Linked DNA regions of Homo sapiens. The protein of the gene in region 3 purifies or fractionates together with the protein of the main gene of each other region. This does not show direct contact. Each region holds a gene or a part of one and is shown on either strand. Other genes may lie near its edges.

The links.
Region 1: the proteins of IFTAP (region 3) and WDR35 purify together in Homo sapiens (affinity purification with mass spectrometry; 3 studies listed by BioGRID and IntAct, with this or other methods). This does not show direct contact.
Region 2: the proteins of IFTAP (region 3) and IFT122 purify together in Homo sapiens (affinity purification with mass spectrometry; 4 studies listed by BioGRID and IntAct, with this or other methods). This does not show direct contact.
Region 4: the proteins of IFTAP (region 3) and IFT43 purify together in Homo sapiens (affinity purification with mass spectrometry; 4 studies listed by BioGRID and IntAct, with this or other methods). This does not show direct contact.

What each region holds. Positions count from the first base shown.
Region 1 is NC_000002.12:19,980,088-19,987,114, forward strand, and holds part of WDR35 (WD repeat-containing protein 35), read right to left. Parts: intron 4,960-7,027; exon of another isoform or gene 4,034-4,959; intron 2,448-4,033; coding exon 2,376-2,447; intron 697-2,375; coding exon 604-696; intron 1-603. UniProt on the Homo sapiens protein: As a component of the IFT complex A (IFT-A), a complex required for retrograde ciliary transport and entry into cilia of G protein-coupled receptors (GPCRs), it is involved in ciliogenesis and ciliary protein trafficking.
Region 2 is NC_000003.12:129,478,224-129,485,250, reverse strand, and holds part of IFT122 (intraflagellar transport protein 122 homolog), read right to left. Parts: intron 5,486-7,027; exon of another isoform or gene 5,467-5,485; coding exon 5,329-5,466; intron 3,722-5,328; coding exon 3,557-3,721; intron 1,767-3,556; coding exon 1,569-1,766; intron 1-1,568. UniProt on the Homo sapiens protein: As a component of the IFT complex A (IFT-A), a complex required for retrograde ciliary transport and entry into cilia of G protein-coupled receptors (GPCRs), it is required in ciliogenesis and ciliary protein trafficking.
Region 3 is NC_000011.10:36,646,491-36,653,517, reverse strand, and holds part of IFTAP (intraflagellar transport-associated protein), read right to left. Parts: intron 5,503-7,027; coding exon 5,363-5,502; intron 1-5,362. UniProt on the Homo sapiens protein: Seems to play a role in ciliary BBSome localization, maybe through interaction with IFT-A complex.
Region 4 is NC_000014.9:75,988,746-75,995,772, reverse strand, and holds part of IFT43 (intraflagellar transport protein 43 homolog), read right to left. Parts: intron 6,889-7,027; coding exon 6,796-6,888; intron 1-6,795. UniProt on the Homo sapiens protein: As a component of IFT complex A (IFT-A), a complex required for retrograde ciliary transport and entry into cilia of G protein-coupled receptors (GPCRs), it is involved in ciliogenesis.

The DNA.
Region 1 (7,027 bases), on a different chromosome or scaffold from region 3:
AAAAGAAAAGGAAACTAACTGGCCCATGCAGGAAGTGAATTATTCCCTTTGACTTCTTACTAAATGTGTTTTTATCTACTGAGATAACTCTAGCCACTCATTTATTCATTCATTCAACAAATATTTATTGAACATGTACACTGTGCTATGTATTATAAAAGGTTCTACGTATAAAATGAACAAACAGTCATTTCCCCTTTCCCCTCAGAGCTTACAGTCTACTGAGGAACCAATATTAAATACACACTCACACACACATGAATGTAATTATAAACTGGAACTACCTAGAAGTAATTCTTATTGGAAATCTGGAAAAAAAAAAAGACTTATCTCAAGTAGAAGCTATTCTTCTGCTAAGAGTCTAAGTTCATTTTGGAGATGGCCAACAGTCACCTAATTCACTTTCTTAATAACAGGGTTAAAGTTTTAAAAAAGTGAAAAGTAGGCAGCAATAAATCCAGAAATATTATCACTGTGCAGTCAGGATGAACTCCTGTTGTTAGTAAAAGGGGTCTATTTTGGAGATGTTATTTACCCATCCAAATACTGTGATCCAGATGCCAACTTGTGAAAAATTAAATAATCTCTCCTAGTAAAGTATACCTTTATATAACATCCACACAATGATAAGCCCGTTTTCATCACTGGTAGTCAACTTCTGATACTGCTCATTCCATGTTACAACTTGAACAGAACCTAGAACATTATAAAACAATTTAGAAACTTAAAGGTTACAATTAATTTCAAATTCACATTTTTATATAAACACCAAGATCATGTTAAAATCAATATGGTTCCTGTACAGCTAACTAGTCTTTAATATTCCTCAAAACCTATTCATAAGATGCAGTTATTGATATCACTAATTTTCTACAACAATGCATAATACTATTTTTCATATCTATCCCTATTTCATCCCAGTAAAGACACCAATCATGGCTAGCTACCAGAACTACCATATACCTGATGACAGAAACAAATACAAGCATGGTTTACTCAATTGGCCTGACTCCCAAAAATAATGATGTTCAAAGGACACCATAACAAGTACTTGTTTAGGGGACTTTTATCATTTTTGGTAGATATGTCCTATAATCTCTCTTCTGCCCACCTCTCACTCGTTTTCCATTCTATTAGTAAAACACTCTTGAGCATATCTTAAACCTCTAGGGTACGTGAATAATTGATGACTTTTAATTTTTTAATCCCTAAATACTTTAGTGTACATTTCCTAAAAATAAAGACATTCTCTTCCATAATCATATTACAAATTAGGAAGTTTAACACTGATATACTATTATCTAACTCACAGTCCATATACAAATTTTACCAATTGTCCAAATAATGTCCTTTATAGACACTTGTTCTTCTCATTCCAAGATCCAATCTAGGATTATACAGTGCATTTAGTTGTTATACATCTTCAGTCTTTAGTCTTTTTTTTTCTTGAGACAGGATCTTGCACTGTCACCAAGGCTGGAATGCAGTGGCACAATCATGGCTCACTGCAGCCTCCAACTCATGAGCTCAAGCGATCCTCCCACCTCAGCCTCCTGAGTACTGGGGACTACGGGCACACAGCACCACGCCTGGTTAATTTTTTTTATTTTTTGTAGAAACAGGGTCTCATTATGTTGCCCAGGGTGGTTCCAAAATCCCAGCCTCATGCAGTCTTCCCACCTTGGCCTCCCAAAGTGCTTGAACTATAGGTGTTAGCCACTACACCCAGTCTCTTCAGTCTCCTTTAATCTGGAATCATAGGACAGATTCTAAAAAGGATTATATATACAACATCCATAGACAGGAGTATTTTCAATATATTAAAAACAGCTATTTTCTTCTAGATTTATTTAAGATGTTGTTTAATCATGTAAAAGTTGAATGACTCTAAGTTGTATTACTTATGTCTCAACAGAAATGATTACAAACAGCTCCCAACTTACAATGGTACTACTTAAATGACTTTTCGGTGATGGGAATGCAATGCACATTCAGTAGAAACCGTACTTCGAGTGCCCATACAACCATTCTGTTTTTCACTTTTAGTACAGAAATCAATAAGTTACATAAGATATTCAACATTTTAGTATAAAATAGGCTTTATGTCAGATGATTGTGCCCAACTGTAGGCTAGTGTTTTCTGGGCATATTTAAGGTAAGCTAGGCAGAGCTACGATGTTCAGTAGGTTAGGTGTATTAAATGCATTTTCAACTTACAATGGGTTTATTGGAACATATCCCCATCGTAACTCAAAGAGCATCTGTACTGTAAATATTACCATTATTTAAAATGTTGACATTTCTGCATTAAGTAGAAACTTTCTAAATGCCTAAATACCACTCAAACATGACTTAAAAGAAATTGAATGACTCACCACTATGACCTTCAAGAGTCTGATTCATAGAAAGGTTACTGGGGGCTGCAAGGCCCCTCAATTTTGCATCATCTAAAACAAAACAAAACAAACTACTATGATAAATATGTAAAAGTGACATATTATAAGATTTTGACTCTTTTTGTATTCCTGGGCAGTATTAATCATTTTTCTAAGTATGCCCCATTCTGATATATTTTTCTCATGGTATAAACATGAACAATAACACATACCCCTTGCAAAGATATTCTGGTAAAATAAAGCAAAATATATAAATGAAGATTGTTTACTCATACATTACATATATTAATAATCATCACTGCTTTTTATTCCTTTCCAAAAGACCACAAATAGAAATATTTATGGCCTACAGATTGAAAACTCTACAGCTTACAAGGGATCAAAAGAGCATAGACTTTGAAAATGGGTTTTTACTAGATTACACAGAATCTTATATTCACTCATTTATTCATTCATTTAACAAATATTTATGAAATGTGTACACTGTGCTATGCATTACAAAAGGTTCTACATATAAAATGGTGAACAAAACAGTCATTTCCCCTTTCTTCTCAGAGCTTTCAGTCTAAGGGACCAATATTAAATATATACTCACATACACATAAATGTAACTATAAACTGGGAATGTGAAAGCATAATAAGAAAGAGTAGCAGAAGTGACTTAATTTAGATTGATGGGGAACCAGGGAAGGCTATCAGAAGAACTGATATTTAAGCTGAGACTGAGAGGTAAACTGGAGATAGCCAGGAAAGGTAGAGAAAGAAGGGGAGTATTCCAGGCTAGGACACAGCAACATAAAGGCTCTGAGGTAGACAACTAGAGCCCTTGACAAACTCTAAGAAGGCCTATGTGGATGAACAGGGGAGAAAATTGCATCAAACAAGGCTGGAGTGATAGGCACAAGAAAAACTATGAAGTATTTGTAGAAAATGATAAGAATTTTAGATTTTATCCAAAGTGCAATGAAAACCTCTAAAGACGTCTTAAAAATTTACTAACCATCCTACAGAGAATATTAAAATGTCATCTCAATAAATTAATCTTGGCTTAGAAATCTGTTACACATAAAACATAGCATTTAAAATTTTCATTTAAAATACAAATGTTATGAAGATCTTAAGAATTTGTGAGAATGGGAATTATACCAATGCTAAAGAAAATTCTACTTTCAGATAACAAGTATCTTAAAATATTATGAAAAATATCCTTTATTCTGAAAACATTGTCAGGAAAAGATACCTAATTTCCTCTAAATCACTAGTTCTAATTACCCAGTTGTTTTGGTAACACAAGAGTACACATGTACAGTTTAACAATGCAATCATCTGTCAATTAAGATAGAATAAATGTTGCTGACACACACATTAGGCTGAACATAATTTTTTTTAACACAGGGTTCTTTCATTCATTTAATCTTTTAAAAATTGTACAACATACTTAAACTTTATTATAATATTCTAAAATATTTGGTGGAAACATTTTTCTTAACTTCTAGCACTGAAAAATCCATTCTAATGCATATATATATATATATATATATATATATATATATATATACATATATACACACACCCACATATTCTGATGTCACTATAACCTAAGTGAAATGGGTCATATGAGATTTAGATTGACCACCCATGTTTGCCCTCTGTTAGACCATAAGGTAGCATACTCTTGACAAAACACATGCTGACAGTTAAGAACAGGCTTTGAAATTCAGCTTGATATATTGAACAAATATCATCCACATCTGAAAACGTCTCTTGCTGGAAGCAACTCCGTAACTTGATCATGTAAAAAATATTCATAAAACCCACCTGAAAGTTCTCAGATGTCCATAAAAAGGCCAAAAGTTTTAAATGATGTAGAGTAAAGCCAGCGATAATATCCCAAGATTCCATTCAGTTACATTACTAGACTCCAGATAGCCAATAAGGTAATGAAACCAAACTGGTATGTGAACAAAAATCTGGTAATACTGACATAAATCTTCTAAAAGCACATAACAGTAATCCTTGGATTTAAAAGGCATAATCGAAGAAGTCACCAATAAAATAAAGCATTTTAAACTCATGTAAAGGAATTTCAGAATGAAATCAGTTATTCCAACAATCCGAAGTACATCAAAAAGTCCAAAGAAGGCTTTTAAAAAATTAAGGTGTAATAAAGCAACTGAAAACAAAAGGTATGACATAGAAGAACAGAAGATCATGCTAATAACACCAATAACCAAGCACACTAAATCTTTGAGAATCTTTCTCTTAGAAAAGCGTGACTGCCAATGCTTTTGTTTGCATTCATAAAAGTTGTCAGCAGCCCAATTTCAACAGAAATTCCTGTTACATGCTGCAAAATAAGCTTGAAACCTAGAATCAAAATATACAGAAGACTGTTTTGCAACACATAAGGATAATACAATTCTGAGAAAGAGATGGTACCATATTCGCCAGATTCTCTGGCAGGATCATCTGGTTGCCTTGCTTCTCTGTGTGAATGACTGACTGCAAAGGACTCTGTATGCATCCCTGGGTCTAGCTAAGGACACCTTACCTGAGATTTCTGGTCAATTTTGTTGTCCTGGGCATATTGGAAGGTTGAGGCAATGTCACTGCCTGCAGGTACCGGAGGACTGCGCAGTCAGCTGCAGTTGGCTTCCATGGCCCTATATACTTTTTCTCTGATGCAAATGTTGGCTTCCAGGGCTCTCTATTTCCTCTCATGAGGATGAGGGTGGAGGCCTTGGCAGTCGTAGCAGAAAAAGCAAGAAATGCCACCTCAATCCTAGTCAGGGCCATCATCCTCAAACCCTACCACAAGCAGCTCCAACCCAGGGCCATCATCCTCAAACCCTACCACCAGCAACTCCAACCCAGGACCGTCATCCTCAAACCCTACCACAAGCAGCTCCAACCCAGGACCATCATCCTCAAACCCTACCACAAGCAGCTCCAACCCAGGACCATCATCCTCAAACCCTACCACAAGCAGCTCCAACCCAGGACCATCATCCTCAAACCCTACCACAAGCAGCTCCAACCCAGGCTGTCAGCCCTTTAAATACCTTTTGGCAAGGAAATGACATCATCTGGTCCCTTTAAAAAAAAAAAAAAAAAAAAGGGCCGGGCGCAGTGGCTCACGCCTGTAACCCCAGCATTTTGGGAGGCCCAGGCGGGCGAGTCACTTGAAGTCAGGAGATCACGACCATCCTGGCTAACACGGTGAAACCCCGTCTCTACTAAAAAAAAAAAAAAAAATACAAAAAATTAGCTGGGCGTGGTGGCACGCACCTGTAATCCCAGCTACTCAGGAGGCTGAGGCAGGAGAATTGCTTGAACCCGGGAAGTGGAAGTTGCAGTGAGCCAAGACTGCACCACTGCACTCCAGCCTGGGCAACAGAGTGAGACCCCATCTCGGGAAAAAAAAAAAAAAAAAAAAAAAAAAGCCTGACACTGGCTAGAGTGTCAAGAACGACTAAGAGGAAGCCAGAGACAATGGAAGGAGGGAAACTGATTCTCACAATAGACCAGGTGAGGGATGATGGTAGCTGGAGCTATAGAGGGAGCAGGGGAGACAAAGGAAAGGATGGGTTCAACATACACTTTGGAGACAAAAGCAACAGGATTGCTGATGCAGATGTTGTTAACGGAGGAAAAGAGAAGATTTCCAGCTTGAGCAAATGAGTGAAATGGAGATATTTGCTGAAATGGAGAGAATTGAAAGAGATTTGGAAGAATATCAAGAGTTCGGTTTTGAACACAGTAAATAGGAGATACCTGTGAAAGACTCCAGTGGAGACACCCACGTCTGAAAAATCAGGACTGGGCTGGAGATATAAATGTGGGGCTCTTCACCTCATACCACAGATGGCATTTAAGGGCATGAGAATGAAAGAATAAATAGAGCAAGTGAATAGAGAGCCCAGAAGCAAGTTCTCAGGAATTCTAATAGAAGAGGGAAATCTAGCAAAGAGACTGAGGACTGACCAGAGAAGGAGAGAAAAGTAGTACGTCTAAATATAACAATAACTTAAACATTCTGAATTCTCTTGTCTGGAAAAATAATGTTTCAAGTCAAATCCTGATGAGTCAATAAAAGCTGTCCATTAGATTTAGAACATGAAAGTCACTGGTGAGGGAGAGAAAAGGAGAGAGGACTGATATTGAAAGGAGAGAGAGAGGATAAATTGGCAGAAAGGTACCTGAGAAGGTGAAGGGAGATGGGCTCCAGCAAAACACTGGAAGCTGGCCTGTGAGAGAAGTAAACCTGATGTAAAAAGATGGATTGCTGGTTCTAATTCCTTTCCTTCTAGAGCAGGGAACTGAAAACTGGAAATGCAATGTGGTGCAAACTTTCTGGAGGGTAATTTGTGTACACATATTAGGAACTTGTATAAATGTACACACTCTTCGATCCAGTGAATGCCATTTCTAGAGATTTATCGTAGAAAGTATTAACTATTTATGCAAAGATTTGGATACAAAGATACAGTTGCTTTAATAGTAAAAATGTGGAGACACCTAAATGTCCAATACTAAAATTGGTTAAGCAAATTATGATATATTAATACCAATATAATGAAATACTAAATAGACATTAACAATGGTGCCATAGAAGATGATTTATGGACGTA
Region 2 (7,027 bases), on a different chromosome or scaffold from region 3:
AAAGTCTTTCAAAGGTACACGTGCTTTGACCCAGCAATTTCATTTCTAGGAATTTATGCCAAGGCGCCAAGTTGGGACAGGTGCAAGGACCTAGCTAGAAAGATGCCTGCTATTTACAATAATACAAAAAAGCTATAAGCAGCAAACATGTCCAGTAGGACTGGTAAAGAAAGCTGTGGAACATCCACAAGACACAATAAAATGCAGCTGTAAATACAAGGCAGGTGGGGACCAGGCAGGAGGGAGGGGTGCTGGCTGTAAAAAGCACAACACCAGGGACCTTGTGGTGGTGGCAGTGTTCAGTGCCATGACTGTGGTGGGAGATTACACATGCCAACATGGGTGGGAAGATCACTCTAGAGCTATGCACACTGTTACCGTTGGGGGAAACTAGGCAAAGGGTTTAAGGGATCTCTGTATTATTTCCTACAATTTATGTGAGTCTACAATTACCCTAAATTTTGCCATGCAGAATAAGAACATTTACCATTTACTGACACAGAACGATGCTTTAGGAGATTGTTGAGTGAAAAGGCCAGATGACTAGTGTACAGCCAGCACTTCATAGACAGTGATGGGGCTGCCATAACCGAATGTGAGGTGAAATGAGAAGATAGCCATAAAGGAAGGGATGAGAAGTCTTGTTTACAGGCCAGGCTCAGGGAATACAGTAAATCTGAGGTTCCATCTATAGGTAGCAATACGTATACACATAAAAGTCATGAAAAGTATTTGCAGTGTGATTCCACTTTTGTTTAAAAATGTTCTTATAAAACCACATGCTCCTAATTGTATATTATGCATATATTATATATACACGTAGAAAAGCGCTAAGCAGATGTATTTCAACATGTTTAAGAGTGATTCTGTCCTGAGGATGGGATGCTGAAGGCTACAGTTTCTCGCTATGCACGTCTCTGTTTTATGGCAATTCTACAGTGAGCACCATCTGCCTGGGGTGCAGAAGGTGGAGGGGAGACCATCCTGCATTCGGGAGGTCAATCTCAGGCGCCTGTCTGTGGTTCTGCCCTCCCCCATTCTGTGGCTCCACCCTTCAGTGCCCCATTTCTGTTCTGGCCACCTCCTGGTTCAGAGAGCTTGTGCAGAGTCCCATGCTCCCTTATTGGCTCACAGACCTCAGCCCACACCCCCCACCCACTCATTCTCTCTCTCCCCTCTCTCTCACACACACATCACCACCATCACACACGTACTCACACACACACCCTGCCGGACTCCCGGCTTTGCTGCTCACTCCATTCGGCCCCACGCTGGGCTCTCTGCAAAACACACGCTGCTGACAACACTGCATACCCCTCCCATCCCTACAGAAAGGGGACAAGGAAGAAACTGATACTCAGGGAGGTTGAGCTGTTTGCCCCCAGTCACACAGGTTGCAAGGAGTGGAGACAGGGCGGCAGGTTCCAGGCCCAGACTGCCTCCCACGACCTCACAGCTGCCATTCTTCTCTCCTTGCTACTCTCTCCCCAAAGCACCAGCAAAGGGCCCAGCTTCCCTGGTCTTGTCAGCCTTGCCAGTGCTAAGAGTGGACAGGCACCCCCAGTTACCTGCGGCACCTCCACGGCAGAAATGGAGAAGACATGGAGGCAGAAGATCTTGGAGCCATTGTAGCCGACCACAAAGCCCTGCAGCTTCTGCCGGTGCACAGGGAAGGTGCTGGCTTTGATGTTGAGGTAGCCTCCTCCCGAGAAGCAGAGCATGTCCTCACACTGGGTGTTCCAAGCTACACTGTTGGCGTTTGGTTCCTGGGGAACAGGGACAGTGGGGATCCTGTGAGAACCACCCTGGGCTTGGTCAGCGCTCACACATTTCAGCCCAATACCCTCTTAAAGACTGAATCCCACTAAATTGCTTACAGTGGGATGGAGGGAAAAGGATGAAAGGGGACCACAAAGAAATGAACAGAGGCAAGAGAAATGAACAGAGGCAAGCCCCTCCATGCACCTGCGTGTTGTTGGAATTTTTGAGTAAGCAAGTATTACTTTTGAAAAAAAATTATTCTCCTGAAATATGCTCATACCTTTCTGCCTAGGATCTTTTATAATGACTAAATCTTTTATAATCAGCATGGATTGTTTTTTATAATGAGAAAAAATCAATATAGCTGTTTTATGTGTAGAGGGAGGGGCAGTGGAGAAGAGGAAAAGCCAGCAGGCAATGTTACAGCTGGGAATGCTGATGTCTCCTGGCAGGGCTGAGAATCACCTCCCCTAGCCTGCCATAGAGCCAGCAGTGGGGATGGGGCAGCACAGACGCCCTTCCACACTTGTATGATTCTAGGCTCAGACACAAGATTCACATTTGGGGCCAGCTATGCCCCCTATAGGTGGGAGGTGAGGCTGGGGAGAAGGGAAGTAACATTTCAGGCCCCATTTTGTGCTCAACACTGAGCTAGGCACTGTAGTATCTAGTGTATTCCTGTAGCAATTCTGTAAGGGGCAATTACTAATTTCATTTTAGAGAAAAGTAATTAAGGCTCAGAGAGGCTCACTAACTTAAGATCACACAGTAAGGGATGCAGGCAGGACCCAAGCCCAGGTCAGCTTGAAGGCTATGCCCTCTCTTTCCCCGAAACCATTCTACTCTCTCAAGGACATGAGTGAGTTGAGACTGACATGGAGTTACCTCTGGGCTAGAGGTGGCCAGGTAACTCCTTCTAATTGACTGAGGCTGCTCCCCACTCCAGACCCCTCCCCCATCGATTCTGCTGCTGAGAACAAGGAGGAGCCTGGTAAGGGGACTGAATCTGCCCATAACATCAGGAAACCCTGCAGTGGCCGAGGAAACCAGTCAGGAGGGGCTCCAGCTTTGGGGGGAACTTCACTCTGGAAAACCAGTCCTGACCACCTACAAAGACCTAAAGAGAGAAAGAATGGCGCGAGCCCAGCAGAAAGCCAACCAGGCCCGGGGCACAGAGCTGCCGGGCTGTCTTCTCTGGTGACACACTTCCTCAGGCCACAGGGCTGGATGACTCCACTGAACAACGCCTACAACCCCAAAGATCCAAGCACTTCGCATTCTGCTGGCTCTTCTAGCATTCTTGTGAATTAAGTAGAAGGCCAGGCTTGCCCATCCCCTTCCCCCTTTCAGATGACAAAACATCCTGTTTCCTTCCCACGCTGTAGGTGCGCATAGACACAGGCAGGCCTGCAGCAGGTGAGACACAGACTTCTGCAAAGGAAGTGCATCCATCGCCCCATTCACTGAGTGCCAACGTCACACCCCTCTCAGAGTCATTGCCCCATTTCTTGTTCATGGTAAACGCTTAAGAAAGGCTCTGCTGGCTCAGAGCCTTCGGTTTCCATTGGCAAGGAAACCAAAGTTAAAGAGGCCGGTCCAGGCCCTGCGGCTTGTGCCTGTGTGGGAGGAGCAGGTTGTGGCCCAGGGCCTCTGGGACTCTGTGCATGTGCTTGGCCCCTGCCCCTCCCAGAGACCTGCCTGGGCCAGAGCAGGAGAGCCTCCTGCAGGGACTGGGAAGCTAGAGGAGAGTCTCTAATCAAAGGATGATGTCCCTGGGCCCCCTCAGGGACTTCACCTGAAAAAGCAGCTCCTTGGTGTCGATGTCATACACCAGGCAAGTGTCATTTTCATCTACCACGGCCAGCTTCTTACGGGAGGCACTCATGTCCAAGCAGCGCACAGCTGTGGCCTGCTTCAGCAGGACGATAGCAAAGAGATTGTCCACGAAGATCTTCAGGATCTGGCAAAATTTCAGCGAAAACAGTGTCAGTCACCATGGCAACAAGATCCTGGCCCACTGCCAGGCCGTTGGAATCCCATGTGCTCTGCAAGAACAACTCCCACCACCTTCACCAGAAGCTCTGTGCAGGGAAAAGGACTCATCAAAAGAAAGAGGGGGGTGGGGGGCAATGGCTTATCCTTAGGAGGCCAGAAGCGAGGTTCATCAGAGGCTGCAGAAGTAATGACAGCCCTGAGACAGGCCGAGCTCACTTCAGTGTCTGTTCGGACTGGGGATTTGTTGATGACATTACCCAAACTGCAGCTTTAGGAGATGCCACCTAGCAGAGATCTGAGTCACGAACTAACACAGGAAAAAGCTACTATGAACACTGACAAGACATGTGGTAGAAAATTATAATAATGATGATAGTGATCATGATAGCTATCATTTACTGATATCCCTGGTTTAAAAAAAATTTTTTTTAGAGATAAGGTCTTGCTATGTTGCCCAGGCTGATCGCAGTGGCTATTCACAGGTATAATCATATCACACTGCAGCCTCAAACTCCTGGGCTCAAAGTGATCCTCCTATCTCAGCCTCCTGAGTAGCTGGGAAAACAGGTACCCTCCACCATGCCTGTTTTAATACCCCTGGTGTTTTTTTTGTTTTGTTTTGTTTTTAACATTGGCTTTAACTCCCAACCCTGATGATATCTGTTTTTGACAGCCCTATGAAATATGTGGTATTATCCTCATGTAAAACCAGCCTCACAGAGGTAAAGTGACCTGCCCAGGATGACAAAGCCAGTGAGTAGCTAAGTAAGAACACGACCTCCGGCCCACCTGACCCCATAGTCCATGCTCCCATTGGAAGTGAGAGCTGCCTGAGAAATAAGCGGCCCTTCCTCCCCTTGGCATTGCTGCTTGACTTCACCCACTGCTCTCATGCCCTGTGACTTCCATCCCCAGCAAAGACCTGACAAGCCTCAGCCATAAGCCATCTGCTGCACAGCTTGGCTGTCAGGCTAATGCAGCTACATTGTCACTTTCAAAGTTCCATGTAGCAGCCTACTTAGAACTTTTCTTATGCTGAGCAAAGAACACACGTGTACACATGTATACACACACACAGAATTTTGTGTAACCTGGATATCCCACATCTAACTGGCCAAAGGGCCCATTTTGCTTATGACATCTATCAGTATCTTGAGGACCCAGCATTCTTTAGGACACATGCTGGAACGCACTGCCTTAATCCACTCGCTGCCCTAATCAGGAGCTGACCTAGGTAACGATCTCTGCCTCCCTCTAGAAATCCACAGAAGCAACATCTCTAACAAATCTCCCACCTTCTGGAGACCTTAAGCCACTAATACACTCTACATGTAGCCAAAGGTTATAGCTCAACTCTGCCAAAACGTGGGCCTGCTAGGAGTGTGAGGGCCACAGCACCTTTGGCCTGAGGCTGTCCTCAAAAAACTGAACTCAGGCTGCCCCACAATTCACCCATGGAGGAGAGAAGCCCTTTTCCTGCCCTGAGAACCCAGCTCAGAGTCATTGCTAGACGGGTCACCCACGTGTGCATGCAGATTATCAGCCTGACAGGAGACGTGAGGGAGCACTCACCTGTCCATTCTTCAGCCCCACTAAGAGGCCTTCTCTTCCAGGAGGGCCACCGATCACCTTGATGTAACGAATGAGAGACTCCATCTGCCACTCCCGCTCCTTCACTCCGCTGAAGGACAGGCACTGCAGCCGTTTCTCCTAGGAAGCAAACCCAGCTCTGCATGGAAATTCAACAGAATAAGTGCCCCCAGACCTCCCCAAGGAGATCTTTCTGTCCCTAAGGGGAGAAAATACCTACACATTCAGTATCCATCTATCTAACCCAATGTAGACCCCACGATTGGCATCGTTAATCCAAGACTCCATGCAAGGCTTCCCCACGGAGCCCAATTCAGCCTCAGATCTTCAATGCAAACCCCCACCCAGGCAGCCTAGGCCAGAGGCAGCACTCAAAAGTACACATACTTGCCACATCTATCCTGTAATTTGTAGCAACCCTAAACCGCTTGGAGTTCTAACTTTGATTATTTATTTATTATTTGTTTTTGAGACAGAGTCTCACTCTGTCACCCAGGCTGGAGTGTAGTGGCGCTATCATAGCTCACTGCTGCCTCCAATTTCTGGCTAAAGCAATTCTCCTGCCTCAGCCTCCCAAGTAGCTGGGACTACAGGCAAGCGCCACCACACCCAGCTAATTAAATAATTTTTTTTTTTTTTTTTTTTTTTTGGTGGAGATGGGGTCTCTGTTTTCTAGACTGCTTTCGAACTACTAGCCTCAAGCAATCATCCTGCCTTGGCCTCCCAAAGTGCTGGGATTTACAGGCATGAGCCACTGCACCCAGCCCAGTTCTAGGCTTTTGAGAGATTTTAATAGTATTTTACACTACAGTGATTCCTAAGGAATTCTTCTCTTTTATCACCTCCAACAGAACTATGTAAAACTAAATCCACCTCTACTTCCAAGATGCTGGGCTAGCCTTCTCTCAAAGTCTTTCCAAACTTCTCTTGGCATTGACTTAGACACTCTCTAAGAATCTTGAGAAATATTTTTCTATGAAAAAAAATCTTTCAGGAATTAAAACTTCCTTGACAATTACTGAGTTGATACAAATTTTATGTGTATATGCTTATCAATAAAAACTATCTTCATTCTGTACACCAATTTATGTTTTAAGTCATTAAAGTATATCTAATCCCAGTATGACAAGATGTTCTGCAATAGAACAAGGTATTCTTGGCTAGACACAGTGGCTCACACCTATAATCCCAGTACTTTAGGAAGCTGGACAGGTCTCAAACTCCTGGGTTCAAGCATTCCTCCCGCCTTAGCCTCCCAAAGTACAGCCTCGCGTCTCTACTAAAAATAAAAAATTAGTTGGGTGTGGTGGCATGTGCCTGTGGTGCCAGCTACTCAGGAGGAAGACCGCTTGAGCTTGGGAGGTCAAAGCTGCAGTGAGCCATAATTGTGCCACTGCATTCCAGCCTGGGCAACAGAGCAAGACCCTGTCTGTCTCAAGAAAAATATTTTTTAAAAAATAATAAAATAAAACAAAAAAACATTCTCCAGTTTATGGCTCATGACTTGCTGATAGAGTCTGGTTCATCCAGATGCCAGGAAAATGAAAGCCAATAAGCACCACTTAGTTTGATGGAACAGACTTGTTTTCTAGTGACCAGTTTTAAAACCATGAGGTGGGCACCCTATCACTGGGGGGGGAGCACAAATGGAATTCAGCCCAACTCCTTCAACATGCTGCTG
Region 3 (7,027 bases):
TTTAGATTACAAACTGAAATTATGATTTATTTCAGTAAAGACTTTGTGCAATGGAACACCAAGTCCCCTGCTGCTAAACAAAAACAACCATGAATTAAGTTATTAACTTGTTATTTTTGCCTAAGGAGCTGAAAGAAATATGTGGATTTCAGGTGTCTAATTTCAAATCTAATTGAAACTTTTTTGTAGCCTCTCAGGGAATAAAATTTGTACACTATTGGAAAACTTTGAGTCCCCTTAAAATTTCTCATGTGACTTATTCTAACAGAGACACTGTTGATGGAGAGATTGTTTTCATTCATAGTACCACATAGGCAAACTAAAGAAAATAGAACTAATGCTTACATCAATAATGGCAGCATTTAGCTGTAGGCTACTATACAAAGTAATATGGTAAATAAACTGTCTTTATAGGTGAAAATTTTTAGAGTCCTATTATGAATTGGAAAAACAGGAGAGCTCCTATTAAAATACCACACAAGTTTCTTCTATGACCTCTCCTACAGTTTTCACGGGGAGAGGGTGGGTATCACAAATTTTCATCCTCCTAATAACAACTCTCTTTGTTCTGTCTACAGAACAAAGCAGCTTGAAGCAGCTTCAAACTTCCAAAGTTCATCAAAATAAAGTAACTAAGGCAAGGTAATTCTATACACATAATTCTATATACAATTATGTATGTGTGTAGAACCAGTGGTAAAATCATGATTATCTCAATAGATGCAGAAAAGGCCTTTGACAAAATTCAACAGCCCTTCATGCTAAAAACTCTCAATACATTAAGTATTGATGGGATGTATCTCAAAATAATAAGAGTTACTTATGACAAACCCACAGCCAATATCATACTGAGTGGGCAAAAACTGGAAGCGTTCCCTTTGAAAACTGGCACAAGATAGGGATGCCCTCTTTCACCACTCCTATTCAACATAGTGTTGGAAGTTCTGGCCAGGGCAATCAGGCAGGAGAAAGAAATAAAGGGTATTCAATTAGGAAAAGAGGAAGTCAAATTGTCCCTGTTTGCAGATGATATGATTGTCTATCTAGAAAACCCCATCGTCTCAGCCCAAAATCTCCTTAAGCTGATAAGCAACTGCAGCAAAGTCTCAGGATACAAAATCAATGTGCAAAAATCAGAAGCATTCTTATACACCAATAACAGACAAACAGAGAGCCAAATCATGTGTGAACTCCCATTCACAATTGCTTCAAAGAGAATAAAATACTTAGGAATCCAACTTACAAGGGACGTGAAGGACCTCTTCAAGGAGAACTACAAACCACTGCTCAACGAAATAAAAGAGAACACAAACAAATGGAAGACCATTCCATGTTCATGGATAGGAAGAATCAATATCATGAAAATGGTCATACTGCTCAAGGTAACTTATAGATTCAATGCCATCCCCATCAAGCTACCAATGACTTTCTTCACAGAATTGGAAAAAACTACTTTAAAGTTCATATGGAACCAAAAAAGAGCCTGCATTGCCAAGACAATCCTAAGCCAAAGAACAAAGCTGGAGGCATCACGCTACCTGACTTCAAACTATACTACAAGGCTACAGTAACCAAAACAGCATAGTACTGGTACCAAACCAGAGATATAGACCAAAGGAACAGAACAGAGCCCTCAGAAATAATACCACACATCTACAACCATCTCATCTTTGACAAACCTGACAAAAACAAGAGATGGGGAAAGGATTCCCTATTAAATAAATGGTGCTGGGAAAACTGGCTAGCCATATGTAGAAAGCTGAAACAGGATCCCTTCCTTACACCTTACTCAAAAATTAATTCAAGATGGATTAAAGATTTAAATGTTAGACCTAAAACCATAAAAACCCTAGAAGAAAACCTAGGCATTACCATTCAGGACATAGGCATGGGCAAGGACTTCATGTCTAAAACACCAAAAGCAATGGCAACCAAAGCCAAAATTGACAAATGGGATCTAATTAAACTAAAGAGCTTCTGCACAGCAAAAGAAACTACCCTCAGAGTGAACAGGCAACCTACAGAATGGGAGAAAATTTTTGCAATCTACTCATCTGACAAAGGGCTAATATCTAGAATCTGCAAAGAACTTAAACAAATTTACAAGAAAAAAACAACCCCATCAAAAAGTGGGTGAAGGACATGAACAGACACTTCTCAAAAGAAGACATTTATGCAGCCAACAGACACATGAAAAACTGCTCATTATCACTGGCCATCAGAGAAATGCAAATCAAAACCACAATGAGATACCATCTCACACCAGTTAGAATGGTGATCATTAAAAAGTCAGGAAACAACAGATGCTGGAGAGGATGTGGAGAAACAGGAACACTTTTACACTGTTGGTGGGACTGTAAACTAGTTCAACCATTGTGGAAGACAGTGTGGCGACTCCTCAGCAATCTAGAACTAGAAATACCATTTGACCCAGCCATCCCATTACTGGGTATATACCCAAAGGATTATAAATCATGCTGCTATAAAGACACATGCACACGTATGTTTATTGCGGCATTATTCACAATAGCAAATTGTTGGAACCAGCCCAAATGTCCATCAATGATAGACTGGATTAAGAAAATGCGGCACATATACACCATGGAATACTATGGAGCCATAAAAAATGATGAGTTCATGTCCTTTGCAGGGACATGGATGAAGCTGGAAACCATCATTCTCAGCAAACTATCGCAAGGACAAAAAACCAAACACCGCATGTTCTCACTCATACGTGGGAATTGAACAATGAGAACACTTGGACACAGGAAGGGGAACATCACACACCAGGGCCTGTTGTGGGGTGGGGGAAGGGGGGAGGGATAGTATTAGGAGATATGCCTAATGTAAATGTTGGTGCAACACACCAACATGGCACATGTATACATATGTAACAAACCTGCACGTTGTGCACATGTACCCTAGAACTTAAAGTATAATAAAAATATATTTTTTTTTTGGAAAAAAAAAAAAGAACCAGTGGTAAAATTAGGGAAAAAATCTGAACCAAATAAATGTTAAATGTTTGAAGTGATGGATATGCTAATTACCCTGATTTGATCATACACATATATAGTACCAAAATATCACACTATACCCCATAAATACATACAATTATTATATGTTAATTTAAAAATTAAAAAAAACAAAATTAGGTAAAACATTGAGTTGGTCCAATTCATATCAGAAAGTTGATGGAATCTTAATAGGCAATTAAGAGAAAGTTAGGAAGGACATCCAGAATACATTTTCAGCTTTTCAGATTGAAATCACAGAAAGAAACCATCATCTCTAATCCCAAAATGGCCTTTCAGTAAGCCCTTCAGGACCCATTTGCTATAAACTAATGATTATGTTCTTTTACTAGCACTGGGTGCTTTAAGATGAATGTTATCAAACCAAGGCAGTGTTGGTACAGTACAGGTTGAATATCTCTTCTCCAAAATGCTTGGGATGAAGTGTTTTGGATTTCAGATTTTGGAAGGGTTGCAGAATATATACGAGTTGAGCATCCCTAATCCCCAAATCTGAAATCCATAATGCTCCAATGAGCATTGCCTTTGAGCATCATGTCAGCCCTCAAAAAGTTTCAAATTTTGGAGCATTTTGGATTTTCCCATTAGGAATGTTCAACCTGTATTGTGATTCTAGACGGTTGTGAAAAGTTACTCTAAAAAATAGTAATTAGAAATAAAAATTCCCAACCAAGATGTTACTTCAGATATTCAAAAAACAGCAGAAGTTGTTCATCTGTGGCTTGTATCATTTTGATTCCAACATTTTAAAATGTCCACATGTCTGGTAGGAAATTTATATTCCTCTTAAATATACCACCATATATGGGGTCTCAACTTGATTTATACTGCTATTTGATAGATTCCAGAAATCATTCAGTTTTTTTAACCCATTAATTAAAACCACTTTGTAACAATTTCTATAATTGTACTAGATTATATATATTCTCAAATTGTACTGAAATAAAATTGTATTTCTATAAAAGTACTAGGTGCCATGTCTACTGGCTGGTCCAATAACTTTTATGGCCACAAGTGAAGTCAACAGCATGAACAAATCTTAAAAAAGAAATTGAGTCCTTCTAGAAATAGTCTTATAATTTTAGCTTTTTACAACTCAGAGAAAGCAATCTATAATTCAAAAAGCATATTGAAAAGTGGCTGTCCCTACCAGTTTAGCCAGTAATCAATTTGGGAGTTTAATATAAGCCTGCACGCATCCTGGATATACTTTCATGATGTCAGTGAACAAAAGTACTTATTAGAAAGTGGCAATTTAAAACTGAAATGTGTGGATTATTTATGACTGAATGGCTAATTCTATAACAGAATATCTTTTAGTAACAAGACTAGTACCTCATGATTAAATAATCCAAAAAGACCCTAAGGATTTTGTTAGAAAGCAATAATAAAGAGCCCTTAACAACTTCTTGTGCCTGATCCTGCTTTGTGTTCCAGTAAGGAGGGTGAGAAAGGTCACTACCAGCACTAGCAACAGTCTCTATTGATACATGTTTATTAAGCATATGTAGAAGAGCTGCAAAATGATAGCTAAAGATGACTTTCAAGTTGCACATTTGCAAGAGTAAATATATGGCATAGATTCCATTTTCATCTCTAGGTGACATTTCTCAGCCTCCCCTGTGGCCAGTATGAACATGTGACTAAGTGGTCACCAATGGAATGTGAGCCGACATTAAGGACCCTGAGTCCTAAGCCTTGGGGAAACATGCTGCCCCCATGTTCTTCTCTCCTCCCCTCCAGGTACGATGATGACCTGACCTGGAACACGCAGGTGAGGACAATGTCCTAAAATATAATGGACATCCAGAAAGAAGGAACCTGGGTCCCTGATGACCCCCCAAAAAGGAGCCACCTGCTCATTTTAAGGGCTCTATATAGGCTGTAAATAAGAGAAATAAACATCTATCTCTTTTCAGCCATTGAATTATTATTAGGATTCTCTGTTATAGCAGCCTGGCCTTACCTCAACTAATTCAAAAGTTTATAGAACCTTATCAGTAATAATAAAAACGGCCAGTTCAAACTAAAAAGGGCAAGAAAACTGTCCGTCCTTTCTATTGTGTAGTCCTTGGGTAGCACTGATCTGTGGCATGGCATACACTGTAAAACAAAAATGGTTTCCACATAAAAACATAATTGCTCTATGTGTTTAAAAAGAAATGTATGCATTTGAGATAGATGGCTGTGAGAGGGACCAATTAAGCAACTTGAATTTTATATTTTCCCAAATGTTAGAAAAATACAGAAGCATGCAGCATTTCTTTGAAGGGATGAATTACAAAATCAAGGCAGTGTGGAGAATGACTGAATTCCCTGTGGAGTACCTCTTCCGTCTGTTTGTCCATTCTTTTAACACTGGGCTTTGGCTTCACTTCACAGGTAGGAGGCTGGGCCACAAAAGGGATACAGGAAGGAATGCTGGTGCTTACATCCTGCTCCACTTCTCCTGGAAGCAGCAGCAAATCTGTTGGATACAAAACATTTCAACTGAGCCTTTCGCAAAGTTCACAATTTACCTAAATCATTTAAATGCCCAGAAGTCGAAGAAAATGAAGCAAATATGCTCATGTAATGTAGATCCATTTCACAATGCCTGTCCTCCTTTGGGAACTGGACTCAAGGGATTGCCCTTTCCTCATAATAGAAGCCATTAGTGCATTTATTTTTATTTTATCGTTGCAAACGTAAGAGTCCCCCCAAAATGTCTGGAGGAGTACTGTTTTTGGAGTAACCTGACTGTCCCTTTTATTCTCAACTCAATTTCTACTTTTATATGAAAATAAGGTGATAAGATGTTACTTTTGCTTCATTTTCCCATATTTTCCTGGAGGGATAAAGAGAAAGAAAATGGAGTACTGATTTCATCCTGTAACAATATGGCAATATTTCAAAAATATATGTTAAAAAACAGTAATGCCAGAAGGAAAGTACTTTAACTTTCAGCAGAAAAGTGAAATATTCTGTCATATTCAGAATGCATGGTCTAATTTTCAACACTTGCAAAGAACAGCAGCAACATGTTTCCTGCTTGTTAAGCACAATCTCAAGAATTCAATAACCCATCTTGGTTTTCTGATTGATCCATTATAAGCAGATATGTCTCCTGATTTTTGCAGGTATGATAGTACATGGATGCATCACAGACAACTGATGATCTTCCACAGCTTTCTTTAAGGAGGACAAAAAAACAATTAGAAGCAGAACAGGTTCCTCCTCAGCCTGTTTTCATAGGACCAGAAGGGCTTGCTGGAGCTAGCCAATAACTTGGAGCGGACTCTGGATGATGCTGCCTACTTCTCAAAGATGATCCTAATTAAGGCACTAATTAACTTCTCAGTGGAAGTGATTAATAACAAGCATGACTTGACTGCTGCAAATGGCAGCATGTATAGGGAGATAATTGAGCAGGTATTGATATTCAAAAACTGAAACTTATTTGAAATGAATCCCTCAACACTATAGATATCCCCTTCACAAAAAAATATAATTACAAAATTCTTATGACTCCAGCAACAGAGAACACAGACAGCCTGGAAACAGAATTGTGGAGGGGAAATGGCAAAGAAGGCAATTCTGCTATGACTAATTACTGAAATCTTAGACTATGATTTCATTAATTAGCAGAAATAAAAACAATAATAATAGCCAACACTTACATACTCATCATTTTATGTGCTTTAGCTCAGCTAATACTCCCAAAGCTCTATTATTTCCCATTTTACAGACAATGAGCTAAGAGACAGTAGCCTCACTCAATATCCCACAGCTAAAAACGGCAGAGCTGGACAGTCTATCTACATACAGAGCCCATGCTCTTATCCTACAATGTCACATTACGAACTTTCTTTAAATAAGCATTTTTGTTACATATTTTATTTTACTGGATCAAATTAAACACTCAAACTTAGAACCAACAAATGTCACTACTATAACACATTAGCATGGTTAGGCAACATTAAGTACATTTCCCAAACATTTCACACCCAGAG
Region 4 (7,027 bases), on a different chromosome or scaffold from region 3:
CCAGCCGATTGGAGAGCGGCTATGAAAAACGCTGGAAAATGTGACCAATCAGGAGAGTTATTTTTGTGAGAAAGAAGAAAAATGTCACCAAAAAGGGTCAGCAGATAACCCTATTGGGCTGAAAATAACTGCCTGGCTGGCAGACCAGTAAGGGGACAGGCGGAGGGCGAGAGACGTAATGCAAAGTGCCAAGGGAGCTCCGGCCGAGTGAGGCTGCTGGGGGATGAGGAAATTGGCCTAATTTGGGAACATGAGCCCAGCAGCATTTCTCAGATTCCTGCGAGGGAATCTGGCTAACTTTCAGTTCTGCGTCCTCGGAGGAACACCAAGGGAATAGGGGGAGAGAAAGGGAACAGCTGTGACTCCAACACTTCTCTAGACCACTGAACGAATAAGGGTGATCAAGTGAGAACTTACTCCCATTCCAAAAGGACCCCAAGGGAATGACCCTAAGTCTCTCCGCCCTTTCCAAAATCCTCTTCTCTACTGGGAGGTCTGTGCTTCTTCCCATCTAGCAGGTAGGAGAGGTTAGGCACTTGAGTCAGAAAGACTCAACTAGAGTCACAGATTAGCTGAATGCTTCTGACAAGTTACCCAGACTCTTAAAGTCTCCATGTCCTCACATGTACAACATGATGATAAGAGTACCTACTTCAAGAGCTACCATAAGGCTCAACTAGGACACTGCATGTAATGAACAGATAGCTAGCAACTGTTGCAATGTAAGCTATGATGATGATTATTAAAAGGACAATCTGCAAAATAAAAGCTAAGCCAAAAACAGGTCTAGATCCCAGCAAGAAATGCTCATCCAAAAGATGAGCTAGCCCTGGAGAGGTTTTGCCAAAGATTACTTTTGCCCAAACTCAGTAGAAGGTAACTTTTCGGTAGAAAGCATCTGGGTCTGTCCTTAAAAGAGTTCTGTGAGGGCACAATCATTTGAATCAATAGAAGGTCAAGGCTCAAGCAGAGAAATCTGGTTTAACTCTCAGACCCATCCTCCCTAGAGAAAGCTATACATCACAGACATGTAGACACTCATCATAGAACTATCTTCCAGCAAAATCCTCAATACCTATAATTCCAACCTGAACTGCTAGCTGAACCATGCTTCTAGTGATCCAAGCCTGATTTGCAACAGGTGCACCCCACCCCACCCAAAAAATGTAGTCATAAGCTTTCTTAGTACTTATCATTTCTCCTTGGGTTTCTGTGTGCCGGATACCGTGCTAAGTACTTTACATGCATTACCTCATTTGATCTTCACAACAACCCTAAAAAAGTAGACACAACTCCAATCTACTCCAAACTAGTAAAATCACACAAAGAGTTCATCTTTCTGGTAAATTTTAAAATTAGACAGTTAAGTGATTTGAAATGTATCGAATGACCAAGCAAATAAAGAGACTTTTCCTCTTCTCTCAGAGCAGGAAGAAGAGTTTAATTACCTGGACCAAACCACAGGCATCCTACTGGCACCACGTCCTAAGTGGGTATGGAGACAATCAGAAGGAAAAGATCAAGAAGAGGCCACTGAATCAGATATCCTGGAACTTAGGGCATACAATTTTTTTTCACTCAACTCCAAAACAAAAACTGGAGAAGAATGTACATTTTTTTTAAGCTAAAATAATTTTCTCTTCATACCCAGGGCTACAAAAAAAAAAAAGGGCTTTCTATAATTTCTATTTGTTTTAAATTGACATGTCATTTTTGAACTGCCTACTCAAGAGCCATTCTACTCACCTCCCTTACCAAGAAACCCCGATGCTATGGTGTGGTAATGTGCCCATTAAAAACTCCCCTGAAACTGAGAGTGTGGCTGTAAGATCCAGTTCTGACCAATGAAATGAAACTAGAGCTCTCCTTAGTGAGGACTCTGGCTACTGTTTTCCTGATAAGAAGGGGTACACCCTTCTTACTGGCATGCACCTTGAACTCTTCAACAATTCCCTCTCTTCCCACCTAGAATGCATATCTGATCCCAGGAGAATGACCAGCCATCTTGCAACCATGAGAACAAAAGTCACAGGCTCCAGATAGCAGAGCAGGAAGCTGGAAGGAGCTAGAGTAATGCAGGACATGCTCCAGTGACTGCACCCACTCTGCTCTGCCCTCCACTGGACTCTTTGCTATGTGAAAGAAAAATTGCTCCTGTTTGATTCAAGTACTGAAGTTGTTTCTGTTGTAGGCAACCAGATTCAATACTGATAGATAGAGGAGGCCACTTGAAAAATTAATCTATCCTAAAAGACAGGAGTTTTCAATTCAGACGGAAATGGGAACCAGGCAGATCAAATGTGAGTAAATCTGACCAGGTGTATCAAAGTACTAAGCAGTTAACTGGAGAGGGATGGATGCATGTAAGCTATCAGCAGCTGCAGCACCAGCCAATTGCCGCCATGTGGGAATGTCAACCCAGCATTCTCACTGTGCCAGGGCTTCTGATTTTAAAGAGAAGCCCCAAATCTGAATTTCCATATTACATTTCCTGATTTATAAATGCGAACCAAATTTAAAAATTCTTAACCCTGTATGGATCACATAAAACATGACTATAGGCCAAATTCAGCCTGAAGGCCACCAGTTTTCAACCTCAGTAGAGGTTAAGGTGGAATAAAAAGAATGCCCAAGTTCTAGAGAAATAATAATGGTTGGCAACATACTGAGCATGTGTGTGTCAGACTAAGTTAAGGGTTATATCACTTTGTCTTTCCAGCTATCCTATGAAGTATGGAATATTATTATCCCTGTTTCACCAAAACAGGAATAATAGGAAAATGAGGCTTAGCAAGATTAACTCAGTATCACAGAAGCTAATGTATGACAGGGCCAGGATTTCAGCCCAGACTGGTATGACTCCTAGGCCTGTGCTTTTACAGACTCTTAAGAAACGCCTGCTGCAACTAGAAAGCAAAAAAACTTTTCTCCAGGTTGGGTGTGGTGGCTCACACCTGTAATCCCAGCACTTTGGGAAGCCAAGGCAGGAGGATCGATTGAGGCCAGGAGTTTGAGACCAGCCTGGGCAACATAACAAGTCTTCGTCTCTACAAAAAAAAATCAGTCAGGTGTGGTGGTGCATGCCTGTGGTCCCAGCTACCCAGGAGACTGTGACTGGAGGATCGCTTGAGCCCGGGAGTTCAAGGCTGCAGTGAGCCATTATCATGCCACTGCATTCCAGCCTGGGAGACAGAGCAAGACCCTGCCTCAAAACAAAAACAAACAAAAAAACCCTCTGCTCTGGATACCTACTAGCCAACCTATGGATAAATGAGTAGTAGCCTGTGAACAGATTTCCAAATCAGTTCTAAGAGACTCTGGCTGGCATGCTCTTTCTTCGGTGCCCTTTAATAAAAGCAGCAAAGTGCTGTCCCAATATGCCTTTATTCACTAATTTATTGAATGAATGCTTGCACAGTGCTTTTCAGTTTATTAAAAAGCGTCTCAATGCGTATCTCACTTGCCCCCATATCAACCTGGTGGTATTACTATCACTATTTGACAGATAATGAAATGGAGAATTAGAGAGATTGGTGGACTTAATCACAATCCAGGCAATTAGCACCCAGTCCTCTGGTGCGAAGCCCTGTGTTCTTTCTGCTTCCTTCACCAGAGCTCCCAACTCCACTACCTCGCTTTAAAATAACCATGTGTTTGAACTAATTTCCACTTAAGTCTAAAGTAACTCCAGCATGTCTGACAGCTCCCAGGTACCATATTTACGTTTGCATGGATATCTTCATCCTAGAATACAGTCAGCAAGAGGACAAAAATAAATATATCAAGTAATAGAATCGGAATGTAAATGGGCACACACACAAGTCTTGGGATCTAATTTTAGAAAGAAACAGCCAAAAAGTCCCACACAGCACAGTGAGCATCTGGCCCCGTGGGAGGCTGCCCACACTGTTTAAACCTCAATTAGCCCAGGGAGAAAGGGATCCTGGAATCCTAACTGGCATCTTGCTTTCAGAGGCAACAGTTGGGTGAAGAGCAGAATGACTTTTCATCATGTTCTCCCACAAAAATGGTAATGCACAGAGTTAAAAAAAGGTAAACCTCGAAATAAGTAGGTATTACTGAATGGCTGAAACCCTGAAAGGATTCATCACACTCTGTGACTATGGAGTTATATTCTCACAGCAATGATTCTCACATGGGAGCCAAGGGAAGTGGATGGTAGGCAAGCAGGGCCCACTGACCCCAGCCTAGGAGCTGATTTGGTATGGGGGTCATATAAGGCTTCAAGGCCTAATGAGGTCATCACAGGCTCATTCACCTAACTACCATAGGTGGCTATAACCTCCTTCACAATTAAGTAGACTTTAAAATATATATACATACATACACACACACACACACACACACACACACACACACACACTCTTGTTAATATTTATATATATATATATAATATATACTCTTATTGTTAATTATATATTTATGTATATATCACTCTTGTTGCCCAGGCTGGAGTGCAATGGCAAGATCTCAGCTCACTGCAACCTCCGCCTCCCGGGTTCAAGCAATTTTCCTGCCTCAGCCTCCCAAGTAGCTGGGACTATAGGCACATGCCACCCAAACCCAGCTAATTTTTAAATATTTTGCAAAGACAAGGTTGCCCAGGCTGGTCGTGAACTCCTACGTTCAAACAATCCTCCTGCCTTGGCTTCCCAAAGTGCTGGGGTTACAGGGGTTACAAGCATCAGCCACTGTGCCTAGCCTTAAGTAGACTTTTAATTATTCTTCCTGGGTGCCAGTGATCACGAGAATGTAACTTCCATTATGGCAAGAGATCTTGTCTCTTTTGTTCACTGAAATATGCCAACCCTGCAAAATGGTGCCTGGCACTTACTGTGTGCTTCAATAAATAGTTGTTGAGTAAATGAATGAATGATCTGGTGTTGGAATTAATCCTCCTGGACCCATGTGGAACAGTGTAAAGTGCCAGAGGCCAAGAATTGGCTTCCATCAGCTCAGTCATTTGCTTCCGCGTTTTCTCTTTAAATACATACACCACTGCAGTTCAAGCTCCCTGAGATCCAGGGTTGGGTCTGGTATATCTTCTTTCACCAAATTCCTACTTTATATCACCTCTCCTAACTGTGCCTCCAATGCTCCACTATCCTCGCCTCCCAACCTCCCTGCCCCAGGCCCCATAACACTTCTACATAGCTTCTAATGTGTAAGTACATCACACACTATGTACTTGACCCCACCTCATCCTGCGCAATAACAATTGCAGGCCTATTCTGCCAGGCACTGTGACAGATAATAGGGTACGATGATAAGACACAACCTCTGCCTTCCAGATGCTCATATCTTATGAGAGAACCAGATATGTAAACAATTAGAATACAATGTAATAAGTATCACAATGGAGGTGCCATGGCCGCAGTTACAAACTGACAATCCTTGGACCAAATCCAGCCCATATGATGATTTAATATCCAGTCCATATGGTGATTAGGTTTTCTTAATCAGGTGCTAACCTCTAAAAATGTGTTGCTTTCACATAAAATTTTAGACTGCCAGCATCTCTTGAAGAATCATATCTGGCAATACTGGGCCTGTATTCTCGACAGCACCAACCAGCTTTGGCTAAGTAGTGGTTGTCCCTTTAGAGGGGGCATGTGGCCTCCAGTTCCCAGTCCCCCTGCCCTAACTCACTCCCCTAGTTTCTTCCAGGCAGTGATGCCAAGGGGTCAGCTGCTAGTTTTTCTAGGCCAGCACAGATGTTATCTTAAAGTAATGATTCTCCATACCCACACTTCTAAAAGGAGAAAATGAAAGATAAATGGACAAGGCCATGTGGAGAGCTTAAGAAAGTGGTGGAGAATGCATTTCCTACGAAAATGAAGAATATTCCTACCTATGTGATATGTAAGTGAAGTGTGTCCATGTCAGGTACCCGGTTCATTTGCTCATGCACCTGCCTGACCCATTAGGCTTCTCAGCATGGGTCTCTTCATCTGTTGCAAACCTACTATGGGCCAGCAAGCTAGAAGCCAGGTTTCCTGCTGTCTGGGAACTCACTGTCCGGTGGGGGAGACAGACATGTAAAAAGACAATTCACATATAATGGCATATGTTCACAATAGGTACTATGGGAAGTGAAAGGAAGGACTGCTAAGTCAGCCTGGAGAGGTTAGAGAAGAGCTAACTTCTGGCAGAGGATGACCCTGAGGCTGACTTTTGCAAAGTTTTTTCAAATGGACAGAGGAAGGTAAAAAGGGGCTCTGAGTAAGCTGCCAAAAGTAGTGCCCTGGCAGTAAAAAGTATTGCTCATCAGAATTACCCACCCTCCACAAAGAAGCTGGATCATTTCCCATAATTCCAGGCTACTCGGAAAAGTTTCCAGGAAAGTAAGGCCAGTAAATGATCTGCTTCCTGCCGGAAGACTGTAGAAAGCGCAGGTCACCACCGAGAGCAATGTCCAATTGTGTAATCCAACCTTACGTCACCAGTCTGCCTCACTGGCATTTATTCAGCGGAAATAAAAACCTGGAATCCTACTGGATTTTGAAACTTCCCAGTCCCTTGCTTCAGCTAACATAAAAAGTTCTACATTAAGAATATAAGGAAATGCACAGAAACTAGTCTGGCATCAAGGAAAAAAAGTTCTTCCATTTCCTGCTACAAGGACAAATGCCAAGGAAGGGAATTCCCAAATCAAGACAGGAGAAAGGGTTGGCATTCAAGAGAAGAAATATGGAATACCAAATCCTTGGTCATTAAGGAATCACTAACTCTTAAACAGTATTTCTTCAGATTTTCTTTTTTTTTAGCACCCACCTCTCCAGTCAGAGTCAAAGAGGAATTCTTGCCATTGAGGTGATTCTCGGCCTGCGCTGACTCCTGTTGAGCTCGGCGACCCATCTTGGCCCTCTGTAAGGAGAAACAGAAGGCACTGCTGACCCAAATGTCATTTGGGCCACTACTGAGATGACAATCCAGCCGGGCGCAGTGGCTCACAGCTGCAATCCCAGCACTTTGGGAGGACGAGGCAGGCAGATCACAAGGTCAG